Linked DNA regions of Homo sapiens: region 2 is linked to region 1. Evidence: fine-mapped expression QTL. A gene starts in region 1. The other region holds a variant in brackets. All regions are shown on one strand. Distances are from middle to middle. Region 1 holds the start of NEDD4 (NEDD4 E3 ubiquitin protein ligase). Region 2 has its middle 22 kb from the start of NEDD4.

The links. PIP is the estimated chance that this variant, and not a neighbour inherited with it, causes the effect.
Region 2: its variant is fine-mapped to the expression of NEDD4 in subcutaneous fat (FUSION, PIP 0.91).

The regions. Positions count from the first base shown.
Region 1 is chr15:55,986,916-55,997,935 of GRCh38, forward strand. NEDD4 (NEDD4 E3 ubiquitin protein ligase) reads right to left here and starts at 6,697. Exons shown (of 29, transcript NM_006154.4): 1 at 6,596-6,697. The coding sequence starts at 6,640. RefSeq lists an enhancer at 5,945-6,727 and silencers at 6,230-6,579, 6,820-6,919, 7,706-7,903.
Region 2 is chr15:56,011,243-56,020,752 of GRCh38, forward strand. No RefSeq gene overlaps it. Among named protein-coding and RNA genes, the nearest start is that of NEDD4, 22 kb to the left of the region's middle. The variant CA/C (reference allele first, on the strand shown) is at 3,801.

The DNA.
Region 1 (11,020 bases):
TGTCTAGGATAAGAAAAACTGTGCATGTGTCTTTATAGCAGCATGATTTATAGTCCTTTGGGTATATACCCAGTAATGGGATGGCTGGGTCAAATGGTATTTCTAGTTCTAGATCCCTGAGGAATCGCCACACTGACTTCCACAATGGTTGAACTAGTTTACAGTCCCACCAACAGTGTAAAAGTGTTCCTATTTCTCCACATCCTCTCCAGCACCTGTTGTTTCCTGACTTTTTAATGATTGCCATTCTAACTGGTGTGAGATGATATCTCATAGTGGTTTTGATTTGCATTTCTCTGATGGCCAGTGATGATGAGCATTTCTTCATGTGTTTTTTGGCTGCATAAATGTCTTCTTTTGAGAAGTGTCTGTTCATGTCCTTCGCCCACTTTTTGATGGGGTTGTTTGTTTTTTTCTTGTAAATTTGTTTGAGTTCATTGTAGATTCTGGATATTAGCCCTTTGTCAGATGAGTAGGTTGCGAAAATTTTCTCCCATGTTGTAGGTTGCCTGTTCACTCTGATGGTAGTTTCTTTTGCTGTGCAGAAGCTCTTTAGTTTAATTAGATCCCATTTGTCAATTTTGGCTTTTGTTGCCATTGCTTTTGGTGTTTTGGACATGAAGTCCTTGCCCACGCCTATGTCCTGAATGGTAATGCCTAGGTTTTCTTCTAGGGTTTTTATGGTTTTAGGTCTAACGTTTAAATCTTTAATCCATCTTGAATTGATTTTTGTATAAGGTGTAAGGAAGGGATCCAGTTTCAGCTTTCTACATATGGCTAGCCAGTTTTCCCAGCACCATTTATTAAATAGGGAATCCTTTCCCCATTGCTTGTTTTTCTCAGGTTTGTCAAAGATCAGATAGTTGTAGATATGTGGCATTATTTCTGAGGGCTCTGTTCTGTTCCATTGATCTATATCTCTGTTTTGGTACCAGTACCATGCTGTTTTGGTTACTGTAGCCTTGTAGTATAGTTTGAAGTCAGGTAGTGTGATGCCTCCAGCTTTGTTCTTTTGGCTTAGGATTGACTTGGCGATGCGGGCTCTTTTTTGGTTCCATATGAACTTTAAAGTAGTTTTTTCCAATTCTGTGAAGAAAGTCATTGCACACGTATGTTTATTGCGGCACTATTCACAATAGCAAAGACTTGGAACCAACCCAAATGTCCAACAATGATAGACTGGATTAAGAAAATGTGGCACATATACACCATGGAATACTATGCAGCCATAAAAAATGATGAGTTCATGTCCTTTGTAGGGACATGGATGAAATTGGAAACCATCATTCTCAGTAAACTATCGCAAGAACAAAAAACCAAACACCGCATATTCTCACTCATAGGTGGGAATTGAACAATGAGATCACTTGGACACAGGAAGGGGAATATCACACTCTGGGGACTGTGGTGGGGTCGGGGGAGGGGGGAGGGATAGCATTGGGAGATATACCTAATGCTAGATGACACGTTAGTGGGTGCAGCACACCAGCATGGCACATGTATACATATGTAACTAACCTGCGCAATGTGCACATGTACACTAAAACTTAGAGTATAATAAAAAAAAAAATTAAAAAAAAAAAAAAAAAAAGAAAAACTGAGGAAATGTTACAGATTAGAAGAGACTGCAAAGACATGCCACGTAAAAGCAATATATGTTCCCAGATAGGTTCTTAGACCAGAAAAGGAAAAAGAGAAATTATTAGTAACATTTATCAAAATTTGGATGGTATCTGTGGATTGAATGGCATTGTTGTATCAGTGTCCATTTCCTAGCTTGGAAGGGGGTATGGTTGTTATGCAGGAAAGTATTCTTGTTTTAGAAAAATACACACTAGAGTATTTAAAGATGATGGGGCATTGTGTCTGCAGCTTGCTCTCAAGTGGTTCAGAAAAAGATTAATGAAAATGGCAAAAAAAGGTGATGGAACAATTGCAGTGAAAAGGTTAACAGTTGCAGAATCTGTATGAGAAGAATACTGGAGCTCTTTGTGTTGTACTTTCAACTTTTCTGATGGTTTAAAATAATTTTAAAATAGGACGGGCGCGGTGCCTCACGCCTATAATCCCAGCACTTTGGAAGGCCGAGGCAGGCGGATCATCTGAGGTCAGGAGTTCGAGACCAGCCTGGCCAACATGGTAAAACCCCATCTCTACCAAAAATACAAAAATTAGCTGGGCGTGGTGGTGCGTGCCTATAATCCCAGCTACCCTGGAGGGTGATGCAGGAAAATCGCTGGAACCTGGTAGGCAGAGGGTGCAGTGAGCTGAGATCACGCCATTGCACTCCAGCCTGTGTGACAGAGCAAGACTCCGTCTCAAAAGTAAATACATAATTTAAAAATAAATTATTTTAAAAATACACTATATTTATTCACTTCTTTAGTCCCTGCTCCATGAAAAATACTTTACAATGATCCTGGAATTAAAGAGTTGCAAAAAAGCACTAATGGCAAAAACAATACATGAAAGATTGGGAGAAATTACTAATACAGCTGCTGCTTAACCTATGCTTCTCCTCCTTTGTGTGTAGTACATAAAGGTTTGGGAAGTTTGTTCCCAGACTGAGTAAGGGTCAGTTTCTGCTCAGCCTTAGTGGGTCCAGAAGTATCAGAATATGCCCTTCTTACCCTGCTACTTATGCACTGTTGTGGCTGCTGCCACCAGGGGCATCTATTATTCTGTATGTGCAAACTGCACTCTCCATACCGATAGCGGAGACTCTGAACTCTTTCCTCTTTATTTCCTTCCTTCTTTTCCTTGCTTCAGTCAGCCTTTCTTATAGGAAACAGAAATCATTCTAGATGCTTTAAGAAGAAAGAAGCTAATACAGGGGATTAGATGCTTACAAAATTTTTGGAAGAGCTGGAAGAGTAGGTGCTAGGCTGGACTTCTAGAGCAGGGGTCCCCAACCTTAGGAACCAGCCACACAGCAGGAGGTGAGTGGCAGGCCAGTGAGCAAAGCTTCATCTGTATTTACAGCCACTCCTCACCGATCACATTACCTCCGGAGCTCTGCTGCCTGTCAGATCAGCAGCGGCATTAGATTCTCATAAGAGCATGAACCCTATTGTGAACTGTCCATGCAAGCGATCTAGGTTGTGTACCCCTTATAAGAATCTAATGCCTGATGATTTGTCACTGTCTCCCTGTCTCCCATTACCGTCACCCACACTTGGGACCATCTAGTTGCAGGAAAACAAGCTCAGGGCTCCCACTAATTCTACATTACGGTGAGCTGTATAATTACTTCATTACATATCACAATGTAATCATAATAGAAGTAGAGTGCACCATACATGTAATGTGCTTGAATCATCCTGAAACCACTGGACCGCATCCCCGGTCCATGGAAAAACTATCTTCCATGAAACCGGTCCCTGGTGCCAAAACAGTTGGGGACTGCAGTTCTAGAAGATCAGAAACATGGCAGAACTGACCCATCCAGGAAGCTACTACCTCTCCCAGTCAGAAAGGTAGATGATCAGGAGTCATCACCAGAACTGATGACTTCAAGAATATAATCAATCTTGACGTCTGGAAGCCACTACCACCACTACTTCGGTGACTTCCTATCAATATGTACAAAGCAAGTTACCAGATACTGGAATACTTTCGCAGAAAATTTAGATGTTTACATGACTGTGCTTATCAGCAGAAAAAGCCAAAGAAACAAAACAATATGCTCCACCTCATTTCCACTCTGCAAATCTCAAGTAAGTGCACTTAACTGGGGAGCCTACTTTGGATCCAGTCCATTAATTTCAATGGAGTGTGGGAAACAGTGTTTAGTTTTCCCACCTCCATATCACAGGGAGGTGCATGGGAAGGAGGTGGGAAGTGATGCTCAATTCCAGTCCCCGCATCCACCACACTGCTCTCCAATAAAGATCAGTGCATGTTATTCTCTACTGTGAATCTCAAGTGACCAGAGCAAATCTGGTATAAATTATACTACACTTCCTCCTTTGTTTGTTAACACTTTAAAGGTAAAATCCTGCACATGCAGCCAGGGTGATCTCTTACTATAAGTCACTTATATGTGGAAGAAGAGCCAAAACTCACTGAAAAGTGAGAGAAAGGTATTATGATCTACATTTTAGCATACTTCAGTGCTAATATGCTCAGACACTGACTCAGCGACTATTCACTATATACTGATTAAATTACAATTCTTTCACTATCTTCTATCCCATTTCAAATTATTTTTCTCCCTGTTTTAGTTTCAAATTTAAAATAAGAATCCTCTCCTTTTGTTGTAATGAAAAAGCACTTTACTTTTAATCAACAGCAGAGGGCTGCCTATTTCCAGACTAGTCTGTGAGTTTTAGAAGTGACATAGCTGCAATGCTTTCTTCCTTTAACAAAAGGGGTGTTTGGGGGTGGGGAGGATGGGGGAGTGTGGTTTCAATCCTTCTTTTACTTTTGTGATAGACCAGAAAATAAATGGCAAATGATAGTGGAGAGGGCAACCTCCACAAGAAAAAAAGTGACTTTTATCTTTCCCTCAGTCCGAGGCTGAGACTGTCTTTTTTCCCTCTCTATCCCTGGTGCCTAGCACAATGCATGGTACAGAGCAAACAGTAAATGAATGTCTGTTGAATGAATAATCCAATTACAATGGAAGAAGTGGAAGACTCTTCATCATCATGTCTCTTATCTTCCTATCTCACTCCCTTCCTCAATGTGGACAAAATAGAGCGGGGACAGAAGCAAATTAGAGTCATGGAACTGACAGCCAGAACTCCCAGAATGTGAATGGGATAGGCCACAGTCCATGAAACTTCCTAGAAGTACAAATCCTTCAGCAAGTTCAGGAAATCCACATTTCAAAGGGTGGAGTTTCTGGCCTTTGGCCCCAGTTCCTTACCGACCACCCATTAACTGCCACAATTAGTTTTATTTCAGCTGGGCAGAGGGGTGATGATTGAAAACAGAGAAATTACTAAAGTAGATAATTAAAAACACTGATCATGTACCAAGAGGGAGAAAACAGATGGTGAATGATACCTTTGGCACTATTTTCTTTAAGATCAACTGGCTCTGCTGGAAGGCGGTGAGATGAGAAATCTGCAATTAGCAGGGCCTACCTGTGAATATAGCAGGGAAAGAAAGTCCAAGGTCAGCCTGATTGGGTTGGACACCACCTTGAAGTCAACTGCACTGGGCAGTCTACGTAGCAAGCAGGGAAATCTGACTGATAAGAAAGCGACCACAGGTGAAGTGCTGTATTATCTTCTGATCTCGTCTACAGAATAAAGGTGCCATTAGCTAGAATGATATCTTTAGCTGTAACACATTGACTATTGTTTCTGAGGGACTATGAGCCGCCACCATTTGTCCATCATCACTTTATTTCTCTTCTGGCAGCAATAGCTAGGAAATTAAATTCTAATCGCATCACGTAAGCATTCTCAAAATATCCTGAAATAACTGCATTAACAAATTGCCCACCCTTTATAAACAAAGAACTCTCAAGAGAAGTGTAAAATGTTTGACGACACCAAGGTACTAAGAGAAGGAACTATACAACTTAAATATTACAATACTTAAGCAAGCAGTATAAATTAGGTTGATGGATTTTCAGTTAACTGGGTCTCATCTTGATAAAAGGTACATGTGGCAGCTTAGTCAGCCAACAAGAAAGCAAAAAACTTGATTTTTTTCACTCGGAACCAGTCACTGTTAGACTACATGCAGCCTTTTCATCTCCCACCCATTTGCATTTTTGAGACAATCTCCAAGAACACACAGAAGCCACATATCATTTACGACGGAACAACCTTTCCAAATGGTCGTACAATATTTTTAATAAGCATAGGCATAATCAGCATTAGTTATTTAGCTGAAAAGAAACAGCTTTGCCTTCTTCAAATCCCAGAGCTTAATCTAGTTTTCAAAGGGAACAGATGTGGTAACTTCTTTATAAAGTATTTATACTTTTTTGGCTTCACTTTTTAACATCAACGACGACCGGTGAAATAAAGCATGAACTTCTCACACTAGACACTTGTTGCTAAAGAGGAGGAGGAAAATTTATGTTCCTGCTCTCCCATCCCTGTCTCTAGTTAGGGGATTAAAAAGGATTTCAGATAAAGAAGAAAAAAACAAACCAGCGAATGACAATTCACTTGGAACTCTCCAGACCGAAGTCCGTAAAGTTAAGTCGGCCCGGCCTCCGCCAGAGCAAGCAAATCAACAGCGGGGATGCTGCGACCGTCTCCCAACGCCTGGGAGCTCCGCACACCCGGCGGGGGTGGCAGGAAGGGGCTGGCGCGGTGATGTGGGTCCCCCGCCGACCGCCTAGCCCCCTCCTCAACACTTCCTGAAGGAAACTGACAAGTAAGGCGGCGGCCGCTCCGGGAAGGGGCGGGTGTGGACCCGACAAGCTTGCTCCCTCCAGCGAGCCCCCAGCGCCCGCGCGCCGAGCCGCCCCCACAGTCCCCGCGGCGCCTCGCGCGCTCCCCAGGCTCGCGCCGAGGGAGGAGGGGCTGACAGCAGAGCCTCCGGTCGTGGCCGCCGCCGCTACCTCCCCGGGTCCGGCTGCTGAATAACCCGAAGGGAAGCCCGCCCCGCAGCCCCGCGGTCCCCGCACCTCGTCCTCCAGGAGCCCGAACACCTCCACCGCGCAAGTTGCCATTTCCGAACGCTTCCAGCAAACCGGACGCGCTCGCCCCCGCCCAGGGCAGGCAACTGTGGAGGAGGAGGAGGAGAAGCGGGAGGAGGCGGGGAAGAGTTGGAGGAAGAGGAGGAGGCGCTCCCTCAGCGACAGCAGCGCCTCCCGCGGCGAGCGGGCACTAGCGGCACCCGGCAGCGCGGCGGGAAAAGGCCGGCGGCGCGCGCTCCTGGGGCTGGGCGGGGGCGCGCGTGGCGGGGCTCGGGGAGTGGGGAGGGCGTGCGGCGGGGCTCGGGTGGGATGAGCGCGCGCGGCGGGGACCATGGCGTGGGGAGCGCGCGTGGCGGGGCGCGCCCTCGGTCCCTTCCCGGGAGGTGGGTGGTTGACGGGCCCGCCGGGGAGCCAGGGAGCGCCGGGAAGCGCCGGGAAGCCAAGCTGCAGTGTTCCTCAGCAACAAGTCTCGCTGAGATCCGACCCAGAGTTCGGCCTCTGACTAGACGCCTGGGAATCCGTGAGCTTAATCCCCGCTTAAATCCCAAACGGAAAATCATAGCGCTTTCTTGTCGGTTAAGGGTGTCATTCCCATAAGAAGCTGGACCTGGGGACCGCCAGGGAAAGCCTGAGCGTGGCAGCAAATGGGGAGGCCTGGAGGGATCGCAGCAGTCTTGGACTCGGGATCTGAAATTCTCTCCCTAGGATTTGTAAACAGTGCCAGTTCCTAAGCTATTTGTTGTCCTATGGTCTGTCCATCTTTAAATCCCACCAGTAACAATCCAATCTCCAGGCTGACCCTCTAAACCTGCTTTAGCTGGGCGTTGATCCGCAGCACCACCAGAAGGCAGTGACGAAGAGGGAAAAATAAAGTGAACTAGGACCTCCTGTAGAATAACTCCTCCTGTGGAATAACTCCTCCTGTGGAATAAGGTTATGGAATAATCATGCTTTTTAATATTCCTGTCTGATGGGCTTTATAATTCCATAATTACAGGAAGACCTCCACCAAATAAGGCATCCATAAAAGAGTCTGGGGAGAATTATGAACACCCAGGCCACAATTTATATCATGTTGTTTTTATACATTTGCAGAAATTTGCAGAATTCTGCAATCTCAAAATCTAATTTTTATTTTCCTCAATGATTTCAGAATAACTCTGATTTATTTTTAACAGTTTAAGATGCTACGTGGGAACAAGGCTATAGCCCATATTACTGGTTTGTTACGTAAGATTTTTCTCGTACTTGGCCGGGCGCGGTGGCTCACGCCTGTAATCCCAGCACTTTGGGAAACCTAAGGCGGTGAATCACCTTAGGTCAGGAGTTCGAGCCCAACCTGGCCAACATAGTAAAACCCTGTCTCTACTAAAAACACAAAAATTAGCTGGGCGTGGTGGCGGGCGCCTGGAGTCCCAGCTGCTTGGGTGGCTGAGGCAAGGGAATCGCTTGAGCTTGGGAGGAGGAGGTTACAGTGAGCCAAGATTGCGCCGTTGCACTCCAGCCTGGGCGACAGAACAAGACTCCACCTCAATTGTCGTACTTTATGATTGGTAGGATCCATTTCATTCATATAATATGTATCAAAATTCTGTTAATACACAATTCAGATTTTATCCGTATTAGGGGGAAAGAGATGGCACTTAATCAAACATGACTACAAAATTACAGAATGGTCAGGAATTGTTGGCTTACCTAAATCGAAAAAGCCATGAGAGCATTAATTTGTTTTTTAAGTTGTCACATATCTGTGGGATTTGTGGGTTAAGAATAAAATAATCTGAAAATATTGTGTGCCCTTCTATTTTGCGAATATTTCCCTCATCTCTCATGATACACATTTTTATGTTTAATTTTAAGTTAGTTAAGTCATTTGAATTTAAGTTAATTCAGTGTCATTTCAGGGCACAATTACAAACGTGTAAAAACAGCTTCCGTTACTGCTACTAAAATTTAATGAATATATGAGAAGTATACACAGCCTAAAACTGGTAATTAAAAAAAAAAAAATCAGTAAATCCCCAAGGGATTATAAAGTAAAGCAAATTGGCCATTTGATGTATCCAATAGGTATTAGTGATGATACTTCTAAAGACCACTGATTTGACTCATGATTTCTTATTCTGTCTTTCCGAATATGAAATCATGAAGAATTAAACAGCTACCAATACAAGATGAACTAGAGTAATTATTGTATCCCGGTCAACAGCTAGGAGGGGCACCTGAAATTAAAGGAAGCTCAAATCGGGATGGTGATATCAGCTGGTGGTCCAATAACCAACCACCACTGAGAAAGCTGTTTAGAATGAAGAACTCCTCTACATATCACTCAACTGCGCAGAACTCTCATGAAGGCGTTTTGTCTACCTAGGCTGCCTTCAATTAGGTTCATGTTGATTTGGTTTGAGTGTGTGTATAACCATGTGAGGCACGTGTGAAGAATGTGACATGGTGCATAACAATTGATTCTGTGCCTCATACCTGTGCTAGGGATCATCCCAAGCCAAAATCCAGGCAATTCTAGCAACCTCCAATAGCATCACCCCTTCTATCTCTTGTTCTTGAGTCTTTTCTCCCTTCAAATCTGCCTTTACATGAGCCTCCAAACTGATTAAGAAGCAAGAAATGAATGAAAACCAGTAAACCTGGTCTAGACTTTCTAGTAGTCTGTATACGTAAACCTCTTTAACTCTGCCTATAGATTTCACTGTGATGCAGAAATTGTTTCTAGTTTTTAAAATATCACCCCCTGGGATCAAAATTGGATGTGGAATGTAACAATATGAAAGGTAATGATACGAAATGCACTTTAATGTTGGTAATTAATTCCCTAAGGGATATAAAAAAGTCTTGTTCAGAAGTTCTCCTTTAATTCTCTCTTACTCTTAATATCCCCTGGCTGCTTCCTTTCTAATAGTTAATGTTTGAGATTTTTAAGGTTCATTTTTTCTTCCACTGGAAACTCCCTGGACCTCATCCATTGCCATTGCCATTACCATAGTTTCAGCTACTTTCTTCATAGAGCCCATCTCAGATCCAGAGCTCAGTAGTGCAAGAAATGTTTATTTGATTTTCTGAAATGAACTAAGTTTCTGCCTCCAGTAGTAGAATACATAGTCCCAATCAATTCATTGGTCTTGCCTGACCCTCTTTTTGCTAAGCTGGATTCTGACTTCTAACAGGCTGTTGTGCTCCCTCATCTTGGTGATAAAGGTTCTCATCACTCCCTCCTGGAATTAGTAGATGTATCTGTGTTCCCGCTGGCCTCTAGCTGTGGACATCTTTATCAAGTAGAATTACATTTGGCTGTTACCTAAACTAATAAGATTTAAAGATTCATGTTATATGGCTGTCATGTAAAAGTCTAGACAGTGGGCAGGGCAGGGTTAATATGGCTAGTTTGCTCTGCCAAAGGGTCAGAAATTCAGGCACTTCACAGCTCACTGCTCTGATGTTTGTAGGTGTGACCCTTATCCTCATAGTCCAGAGAGTGGCTCAAGCTTCAATCATTACGTCTATGTTCCAGGTTACAAGGCAGAGGAAGGAGTAAAGAAGAGAGTTCAGGTATCATGGTCATCTTTTAAAATGCCCTCCTCACCCCACAAGGGGTGGGAGGTAGTGAGAAAGACGGCCAGGTGCAAGGCAGTGGGACCCAGGTGTGTTCAAGGAAGGGTTTGCTTGGTGGACTGGTGATGGCAGAAATGGGAAATTAGTTACTTGTAGAGACAAGTGATCCAATAAGTGAATATATGAATGATAATGAGAACCACATTAGTCACTGTTGAAGAAGTTACAAGAATGGAAAGAGAAAACTTGAATGAGTCTTGTGTTGTTATAATGAAATTGGTGGTGTTGATATGAACTCAAAAGTTTTTAACATATATATATAGTATATAAATAAATGTAGATGTAAACCTCTGCTGCATACACACACACACACACACACACACACACACACACACAAATATTTTCTACATTTGTATTCTAAGAGGGCCTGGGAACAATGACACCCCAAAAGCAATGAGCATATCTTGCATCCATATTTTAACTTTTTACTAAAAGAAACCAGGGCTCCTTGGAAAAATGGCTGATTCCAGGACTAGGACAAGGCAAATAAAAGTTGAGCCTGAAACATCTTGTTATCCCAGAAAATAATGAAAGTAATGATGGAGACAGAATAAAAGGACACAGGAACCAACCTGAAAAAAGCTCCCACTGGCCAAAGATGGCCTAACTTGAGCACTAAAATAAATTATGATAGCAACAGATTATAATCCAATGAATAATTCTGGTACCATGTGTTCATTACAGATATAAATTATAATAAATGAGTACATTCAAAGTTCAATGAAAAATGAGATTTTTACAGGGTTCAACATATATTTCCAGAAAGTACTTAGTTACATAGATTAA
Region 2 (9,510 bases), 24 kb after region 1:
TTCACCATGTTGGCCAGGATGGTTTTGATCTCTTGACCTCGTGATCCGCCCGCCTCAGCCTCCCAAAGTGCTTGGATTACAGGCGTGAACCACTGTGCCCGGCTAGCACTATTCTTTTAAAAATTAATATATTATAAATAAGGCTAAAGTCATTTTTTATTTGAATTCCCCAAATCCTAGTACCCTCCCCTGTGCCAGAAGTAGCCGTTGTTTTAAGTTTGATGTGCACAATTCACTACAGTAAACAGTATATACATTGTTCTACAACTTGCTTTTTCCCTTCCACACTTTGTCTTGTTATGCTGTGTTGCATACTCATCTAATTAATACATTTCAGCAGCTTTAAGAAAAAATACAATATCAATATAGCACAATTTATTAAAGCTATTCCCCTATGGATGTCAATTGGGTTGTATAGAGTTTACATTGTTTCATGTGACTTTTTCACATAATAGGGAAGACATTTCTATACACAAAATTGATCAAAAAAGCTCAATGTTTAACACAGAGAAAAAAATTACATTTGCAGTCAATACTTTTGTATCTATTCTGCAATAAAAACTTTTATATCCTTTGGCATCACCTAAAACATATGGTGAGGGAATGCCCTCTTATTCTAAAATTCTGTGATTCTCTAAGTATTCCCAATAGGCTATGCCAAGTTGTTTTTTGTTTTCTTATCATACACTGGATAGGTAGTGGGTTTTGTTTATTTGTTTGAAATAGGCCGGGCGCGGTGGCTCAAGCCTGTAATCTCAGCACTTTGGGAGGCCGAGGCGGGCGGATCATGAGGTTAGGAGATCGAGACCATCCTGGCTAACACGGTGAAACCCCGTCTCTACTAAAAATACAGAAAATTTGCTGGGCATGGTGGCGGGCGCCTGTAGTCCCAGCTACTCGTGAGGCTGAGGCAGGAAGGAGAATGGTGTGAACCCGGGAGGCGGAGCTTGCAGTGAGGTGAGACTGCGCCACTGCACTCCAGCCTGGGTGACAGAGTGAGACTCCATCTCAAAAAAAAAAAAAAAAAAAAGAATAAGGGTGTTTAACATTAAATTTCTTGGCATTTTTACAATATAAGTCCCTTATCTGTCCCCAAAATATTTGATCACATTTATTAAACATAAATATCTCTTTCATGTATGTGTGGATCTTGAATAGAAGGGTATGTTTCATGTAAAGGTTGGTATGATGTTCAACAGACAGCATAGAGTTCAATATACACTAGAGAGTGAGATGACCCATAAACTGAACCAGAGCTAGTAGTAATGAACATATAAACATGAGCACATGTAGAGTTCAAAGAAATCTGAGGGATTGCTTTGAATTTCTCTAGAGCCTGGAATAATCATTAAAGTCACTCTCAGTATAATCTCATGGGCAAGGAAAACTTCAATTGCTCATGGTGTACACAAGTCTTTACTGGGTTAGGTGCAGTGGTTCAAACCTGTAATCCCAGCATTTTGGGAGGCCAAGACAGGAGGATCACTTGAGCCCAGGAATTTGAGACCAGCCTGGGCAACATAGTAAGACCTCATCTCTACAAATAATTTTTTTAAGATTACCTGACTGTGGTGGTGTGCATCTGTAGTCCCAGCTACTCAGGTGAGGTGGGAGGAGTGGTTGAGCTCAGAGGTCAAGGCTGCAGTGAGCTGTGATGGCAACACTATACCCCAGCCTGGGCAACAGGGTAAGACCCTGTCTCCAAAAAAAAAAAAAAAAGACTTTACTAAAGGCTAGGCAATAACGAATAACCAAAGGGAAATAAACACAACATGTAACACCAAACTAGATTGTCTGGTTGTTACATGACTGTAATAGGTCTGTTGCCTGATGTGCATGGTAAGCCAATTTGCCAAGACACCAGGTTGCAGCAAAGAAAGAGTTTTAATTGTAGGGCTGCCATATGAGGAGATGGAAGGAAACTTCAAACTCCCTGAGGAGTTTGGGGCTAGAGTTTATAAGGGTTTTGGAGTGAGCCAAGGAGTGACGATTGTTGCTTGGTTGAAGAGTACAAGATGAAGTCATGGTACAAGATGAAGAAATGATATTCTCATGTTGATGCTGATTGAGTTACCCTATGAGGGTCTTGAACTGCTTGGCATCAGCTGTTCTGCTGGAATTCAGGATCTGCTTAAGCAATTCTTAAAGTGTTAGGACTCTAATGTCAGAAATCATATCTATCTTAAACAAAAGCTGTATGATTCTAGGGCCAGGAATCCTATTTATAGGTATAATGGGGGTGCAGATGGCCAGTATCTAGTGTGATATGACTTTCAGTAACAAGGAAGTGGGTCAACATGCAGACTGATTACCGCTTGATTATAATTATTTCTGTCCAGATTTCTTGTAAAGCCCCTGAGGGTGGTATATTAGTCTGTTTTCATGCTGCTGATAAAGACATGCCTGAGACTGGGAAGAAAAAGAGGTTTAATTGGACTTACACTTCCACATGGCTGGGGAGGCCTCAGAATCATGGCACGAGGTGAAAGGCACTTCTTACATGGTGGGAGTAAGACAAAAAATGAGGAAAAAGCAAAAGCGGAAACCCTGATAAACCCATTAGATCTCATGAGACTTATTCACTATCATGAGAATAGCACTGGAAAGACCAGCCCCCATGATTCAATTACCTCCTCCCACTGGGTCCCTCCCACAATATGTGGGAATTCTGGGAAATAAAATTCAAGTTGAGATTTGGGTGGGGACACAGCCAAACCATATCATTCCACCCCTGGCCCCTCCAAATCTCATGTCCTCACATTTCAAAACCAATCATGCCTTCCCAACAGTCCCCCAAACTTAACTTATTTCAGCATTAACCCAAAAGTCCACAGTCCAAAGTCTCATCTGAGACAAGGCAAGTAAGTCCTTTCCGCCTATGAGCCTGGAAAATCAAAAGCAAGCTAGTTACTTCCTGAATACAATGGGGGTACAGGTATTGGGTAAATACAGCCATTCCAAATGGAAGAAATTGGCCAAAACAAAGGGATTACAGGGCCCATGCAAGTCTGAAATCCAGTGGGGCAGTCAAATTTTAAAGCTCCAAAATGATCTCCTTTGACTCCAGGTCTCACATTGAGGTCATGCTGATGCAAGAGGTGGGCTCCCATGGTCTTGGGCAGCTCTGCCCCTGTAGCTTTTCAGGGTACAGCCTCCCTCCTGGCTGCTTTCACAGGCTGGCATTGAGTGTCTGCAGCTTTTCCAGGTGCACAGTGCAATCTGTCAGTGGATCTACCATTCTGGGGTCTGGAGGATGGTGGCCCTCTTCTCACAGCTCCACTAGGCAGTGCCCCAGTAGGGACTCTGTGTGGGGGCTCCAACCCCACATTTTCCTTCTGCACTGCCCTAGTAGAGGTTCTCCATGAGAGCCCCACCCCTGCAGCAAACTTCTGCCTGGGCGTCCAGGCATTTCCATACATCTTCTGAAATCTAGGCAGAGGTTCTCAAACCTCAATTCTTGACGTCTGTGAACCCGCACGCTCAAAACCATGTGGAAGCTGCTAAGGCTTGAGGCTTTCACCCTCTGAAGCCACAGACCAAGCTCTGTGTTGGCCCCTTTCAGCAATGTCTGGAGCAGCTGGGACACAGAGCACCAAGTCCCTAGGCTGCAACACAGCACAGAGACCCTGGGTCTGGCCCACTAAACCATTTTTCCCTCCTGGGCCTCCGGGCCTGTGATGGGAGGGGCTGCTGTGAAGTCTCTGACATCAACTGAGAGACATTTTCCTCATGATCTTGGGGATTAACATGAAGCTCTGTGCTACTTATGCAAATTTCTGCAGCTGGCTTGAATTTCTCCT[CA/C]AAAAAAAAATGGGTTTTTCTTTTCTGCATTGTCAGGCTGCAAATTTCCTGAACTTCTATGCTCTGTTTCTGTTTTAAAACAGAATGCTTTTAACAGCACCCAAGTCACGTTTTGAATGCTTTGCTGCTTAGAAATTTCTTCCACCAGGTACCCTAAATCATCTCTCTCAATTTCAAAGTTCCACAAATCTCTAGGGCAGGGGCAAAATGCCACCAGTCTCTGCTAAAACATAACAAGAGTCACCTTTGCTCCAGTTCCAACAAGTTCCTCATCTCCATCTGAGACCACGTCAGCCTGGACCTTATTGTTCATATCACTATCAGCCTTTTTTTCAAAGCCATTCAACAAGTCTCTAGGAGGTTCCAAACTTTCCCACATTTTCCTGTCTTCTTCTGAGCCCTCCAAACTGTTCCAACCTCTTTGTGTTACCCAGTTCCAAAGTCGCTTCCACATTTTTAGGTGTCTTTTCAGCAATGCCACACACTACTGGTCCCAATTTACTGTATTAGTCCACTTTCATGCTGCTTATAAGACATACCCTAGACTGGAAAGAAAAAGATGTTTAATTGGACTTACAATTCCAAATGGCTGGGGAGGCCTCAGAATCATGGTGGGAGGTGAAAGGCACTTCTTACATGGCAGTGAAAAGAGAAAAAATGATGAAAAAGCAAAAGCGGAAACCCCTGATAAACCCATCATATCTCATGAGACTTATTCACTATCATGAGAATAGCATGGGAAAGACCAGCCCCCATGATTAAGTTACCTTCCCCTGGGTCCCTCCCACAACACATGGGAATTCTGGGAGATACAATTCAAGTTGAGACTTGGGTGGGGACACAGCCAAGCCATATCAGGTGGCTTCAATAACTTGCTCACCAGAGCTCCCAATCCGCCATCCAGTTGCATTCATCTTAGATGTATCACTTAGGGGACTGAACCTGGACACCTATTGTTTTAGTTAAGAGGCTTTCCACCTCAATTAACAGAAAACCAACTCCACTCCTTAAACAGTGAAGGTGGCTTATATAACCAAATGTCTTGATATATGCAGACTTCAGGTACCATATAGTCATTGCCGGACAGGTTCTTCCTCTCCACTGCACAGACAAAATCAATCCACTGAGATGGCAGCACTGCAGTAGAGAAAGAGTTTAATTGACATGAGGCAAGCCCATGAGGGAGAACTGGGCTCAAATCAGTCTCTGAAGATTTGGAGGTTGGGAGTTTTTAGGGAGTAGGTGCTGCTGATTGGTTGGGGATGAAATCGTAGGGGTGTGGAAAATAGTCCTCATGGGCTGAGTCTGCCTCTGGGTGGGGCCACAGGATTCATTGAGTCATGAGTTCAGGTGGAGTCCATCTGAAAAACATCTCAAACTAATTATAGGTTCTGTAATAGTGATGTTATATAGGAGCAATTGGGAAGGTCACAAATCTTGTGACCTCTGGTCACATGACTCCTGAGCAGTAAGGGATTAGAAACTATGCCTACATTTTAGCAGAGTTCAGCACCCTCTCATAATCCGAAGCTTGTGGCTTTTTATTCGTTTTACAGATGCAGTTTAGTTTTGGGAAGGGCTGTTATTATCCCTGCTTTAAGGTTAAACTATAAACTAAATTCTCCCCATGGTTAGCTTGGCCCACACCCAGGAAAGACCGAGGATAGCTTGGAGGTCAGAAGCAAGATGGAATCAACTATGTCAGATTTCTCTTACTGTCATAATTTTGCAAAGGCAGTTTCAACATAATCAAAGTTCTAGCCTGATTTTCTTGCAGTGTTTGCGAGTCCATTCTCCACGTGTAGGTTTTGTTCTCAGGCTGGCTTCCCTCAAGGACACAAATTAAGCAACAGGTTTCTTTGCTTACATTCAATATGGAACAGTGAGATCTACTTTCCATTATTATCACTCAAATATAAAGAACTTTCCCAAAAGCTATTAGTAGCTCAAATTTTATTGGCCAACACTGAGGTACATTCCCATTCCTAAACCATTTGCTGGCCAGGGATGAGATTACATGGTTAGTTTACCTTAACCAGTCCTTACTTTGTGAGCTGAGGATGGTGTTAGCTTTCCCTAATCCCAAAGGTTGGATAAGGATGGATACCAGAACAAAATTGGGGATCTATGAGAAGGAAGGTGTGGGAAATTGATTACAGGTAGGCACCAAGAATATCCACTATATATATATTTTTTCTACCTTCTTTAAATTCTCACATTATTATTCCCTTGATTTTTGTGGTCCAACTGCACTGGCTTTCTTTTGGATCATCAAACATGCCTTGCTCCTTGTCACCCTAAGATCTTTGTTCAGACTATTTTCTTAGCCTGGAATTCTCTTCTCCCACTCTCTTTCCTGGTAAAATGCTACTCACTTAAAAGTCATTTCTTTCATAAAGCCTTCCCTCAGCCCCTTACTACATTATGTGCCTCTTCTTCCAACTCAAACTAACTTAAGCAAAAGGAGAATACAGTCAGTTTTCATTACGTGCAGTAGTTATGTTCTATCAAGTTGCCATAAACACTGCATTAGTGAATACTGAACCATTACTCCCAGAAGACTTAAAAGGTTAGGTTCCAGGGAGCCTCCGGTCACAATATTCTCATCAATGGATCAATACATAACCTTGTTTTATGTGTGTTTTGGCTTAAAGACATCTCATTTAATGCGTATTGTTGATTCATTAACACTGAACTACCAACATGCTAACTCATGCCTGAACAAAGCTTATCTAACCCATATATTTTCTCTGTAAGGCACATCTCAGCCTAGTATTCAGGAACGCTAACCAAAACAGCACTTTAGCACTAAGCTCCAGGGCCATTTTAAACAGTGAAAACAACGAAAAGCACAAAATGTGAAAAACGTGGCACTAAATAGATTGCAAAAAGGACATTTGTTTACAGTGTGAGAGGTGAAGCAAGACAGCAGACGTCTTGTTGAACCTCAGCTGGAAACATGCACATCAGGTGACTCAAATTTTTCACTACTCTGTACATACATGTCAGTGAATGATTGTGAAAGCACTGTTGGGGCTCAGAAAACAATACCCCATAGTATGGCACTGTGGCATGCTGAGTGCTTTGAACTGAAGTTGAACCAAGGTCTCACTGACTTTCTCCTGTGCTCTTGTCTCTTGTCCTTCTCTCCTGAAGAGCAAGAGGGAGCTCTCTCTGAATTTCCCTTACTTGCCTAAAAATGGATCCTCCAAAAGGGACTCATTTGTCCCCTCTCTGCAATCTCATTAGCTAGGGAAGATTAATTATATCACAGGAGAGGAGACTAAAGGTTGGTACCTTGCCCAGATAGACTTTGTCAAAAGTTGCCACCTATTCTTCTTCTTCCTGTATTTTTTTTTTTTTTTTTTTGAGATAGGGTCTCATTCCTATCACCCAGGCTGGAGTGCAGTGGCACTATTGTGGCTTACTGCAGCCTTGAGCTCCCACGCTGAAGGGGTCCTCCTGCCTCAGCCTCTTGAGTAGCTGGGACCATGGCATGTGCCTCCACACCCAGCTATTTTTTTTTTCTTTTTTTGTAGGCATGTGGGGTTTTTCCATGTTGCCCAAGCTGATCTCAAACTTCTGACCTCAAGCGATCTGGCTGCCTCAGCCCCAAATGCTGGGATTACAGACATGAGCCACTGCCCCCAGCCCAACTGTTCTGAGGGTTGCTACTTGAGATATTTTCTCTGTATAACAAGACAACTTTGTTCACTATAAATTTCCTCCTCTCACCCTCTCATAACCTGTCACCACCTCCCCACAGAAGCCTCAAGCCCCTATTTCCTTCTATAGCTCAGGATGCTATAAAAACTTTGACCATCTACCCCTTCTTTGAATCTTATAATTTGTGAGGCTCCCACGTGCATGCACATAATAAAACTGTATGCCTTTTCTCTTGTTAATCTGTATGCTGTCAGTTTATTCCAGAGACTCAAATTATCAAACCTTCAGAAAGTAGGGGGAAGGTTTAAAACTCCCTTATAGTTTCAAGAGTATTAATCTGGGGGTTACAAATACGCTTTAGTAGGTAAGTAAATTTGCAAATACAGAATCCATGAATAATGAGTGTGGTGGTTAATATTAGGGGTCAACTTGATTGAAGGATGCCTACATAACTGGTAAAGTATTGTTTCTGGGTGTGTCTGTGAGGGTGTTGCCAGAGGAGATTAACATTTGAGTCAGCGGACTGGGAGAGGAAGACCCACCCTCCATGTGGGTGGGCACCATCCAATTGGCTGCCAGAGAGGCTAGAACGAAGCAAGCAGAGGAAGGTGGGATAAGCTGGCTTGCTGAGTTTTCTAACTTTCATCTTTTTCCCATGCTGGATGCTTCCTGCCGTTGGACATCAGACTCCAGGTTCTTCGGGGACTCTTGGACTTACACCAGCGTTTTGCCGGGGGCTCTGTCGGCTGCACTGTCAGTTTCCCTACTTTTGAGACTTTTGGACTCGGACTGAGCCACTACTGGCTTCCTTCTTTCTCAGCTTGGAGACAGCCTATCATGGACTTCGCATTGTGATCGTGTGAGTCAATTCTCCTTAAGAAACTCCCTTTCATGTATACATCTACATCCATCCTATTAGTTCTGTCCCCCTGGAGAACCCTGACTAATACAATAAGAATCAATTGTATGTTGCTGGATATACCTGGAAAGTCCAAGGAGGTAAATCTGATTCCAGGAATGACTAGATCTGAGAGTTTCAGGTCTCTCTTTTTTCCATCCCTCTGTTGTCTCTTCATGGCTTTGTTCTTGAAGAGGTTCTCTCTACTCAGCAGCACAACAGCTACCAGTAGTCCCAAGTCTATGTAATTCTTAGTTTACCCCCAAGCCCATAAGATAAACCCTTTATCTCCCAAGCTCTATGTATTTAATCTAAGAGAATAGTCTGATTGGGCTTTCTTGTACCCATTCCCTCATCTAGGGCAGGTGCAAGCGTGTTAGCCCCACCTGAACTGCATGAACAGACTCCTTACTGCGAAGAGGGGCGCTGTAATCAAAAGAAAGGAAAAGGAGCACAGTTGAATCTAATTAACAGCTGTTAATTATACCTGGCACATTTTTAGAATTCCGTGAAATGAAAAATGAACATTCTTTAAAAAATAATTTAGTTTTTCAACCATTGTCCACTCCCACCCCAAGTAGTCCTGTTTGTATTGTTGCCATCTGTGTGTCCATGAGTACCCAATATTTGGCTCACACTTATAAGTGAGAACGCGGTATTTGGCTTTCTGTTCCTGCGTTAATTCACTTAGGATAATGGCTACATCCATGCTGCTGCAAAGGACATGATTTCATTTTTTTTTATGACTCCGTAATGTTTCTGTTGTGTATGTACCACATTTTCTTTATCCCGTCCACCACTGATGGGCACCTAGGTTGATCCCATGTCTTTGTTATTGTGAATAGTGCTGCGATGAACATATAGATGCATATGTCTTTTGGTAGAATGATTTATTTTCTTTTAGATAGATACCCAGTAATGGGATTGCTGGGTCAAATGGTACTTTTGTTTTCAGTTTTTTGAGAAATCTCCAAACTGCTTTGCACACTGGCTGAACTAATTTACATTCTCATCAACAGTGTATACATGCTCCCTTTTCTCTGCAGCCTTGTCAGCATCTGTTATTTTTTGACTTTTTAAGAATAGCTATTCTGACTGGTATGATATGGTATTTTATTGTGATTTGATTTGCCTTTCTCTAATGA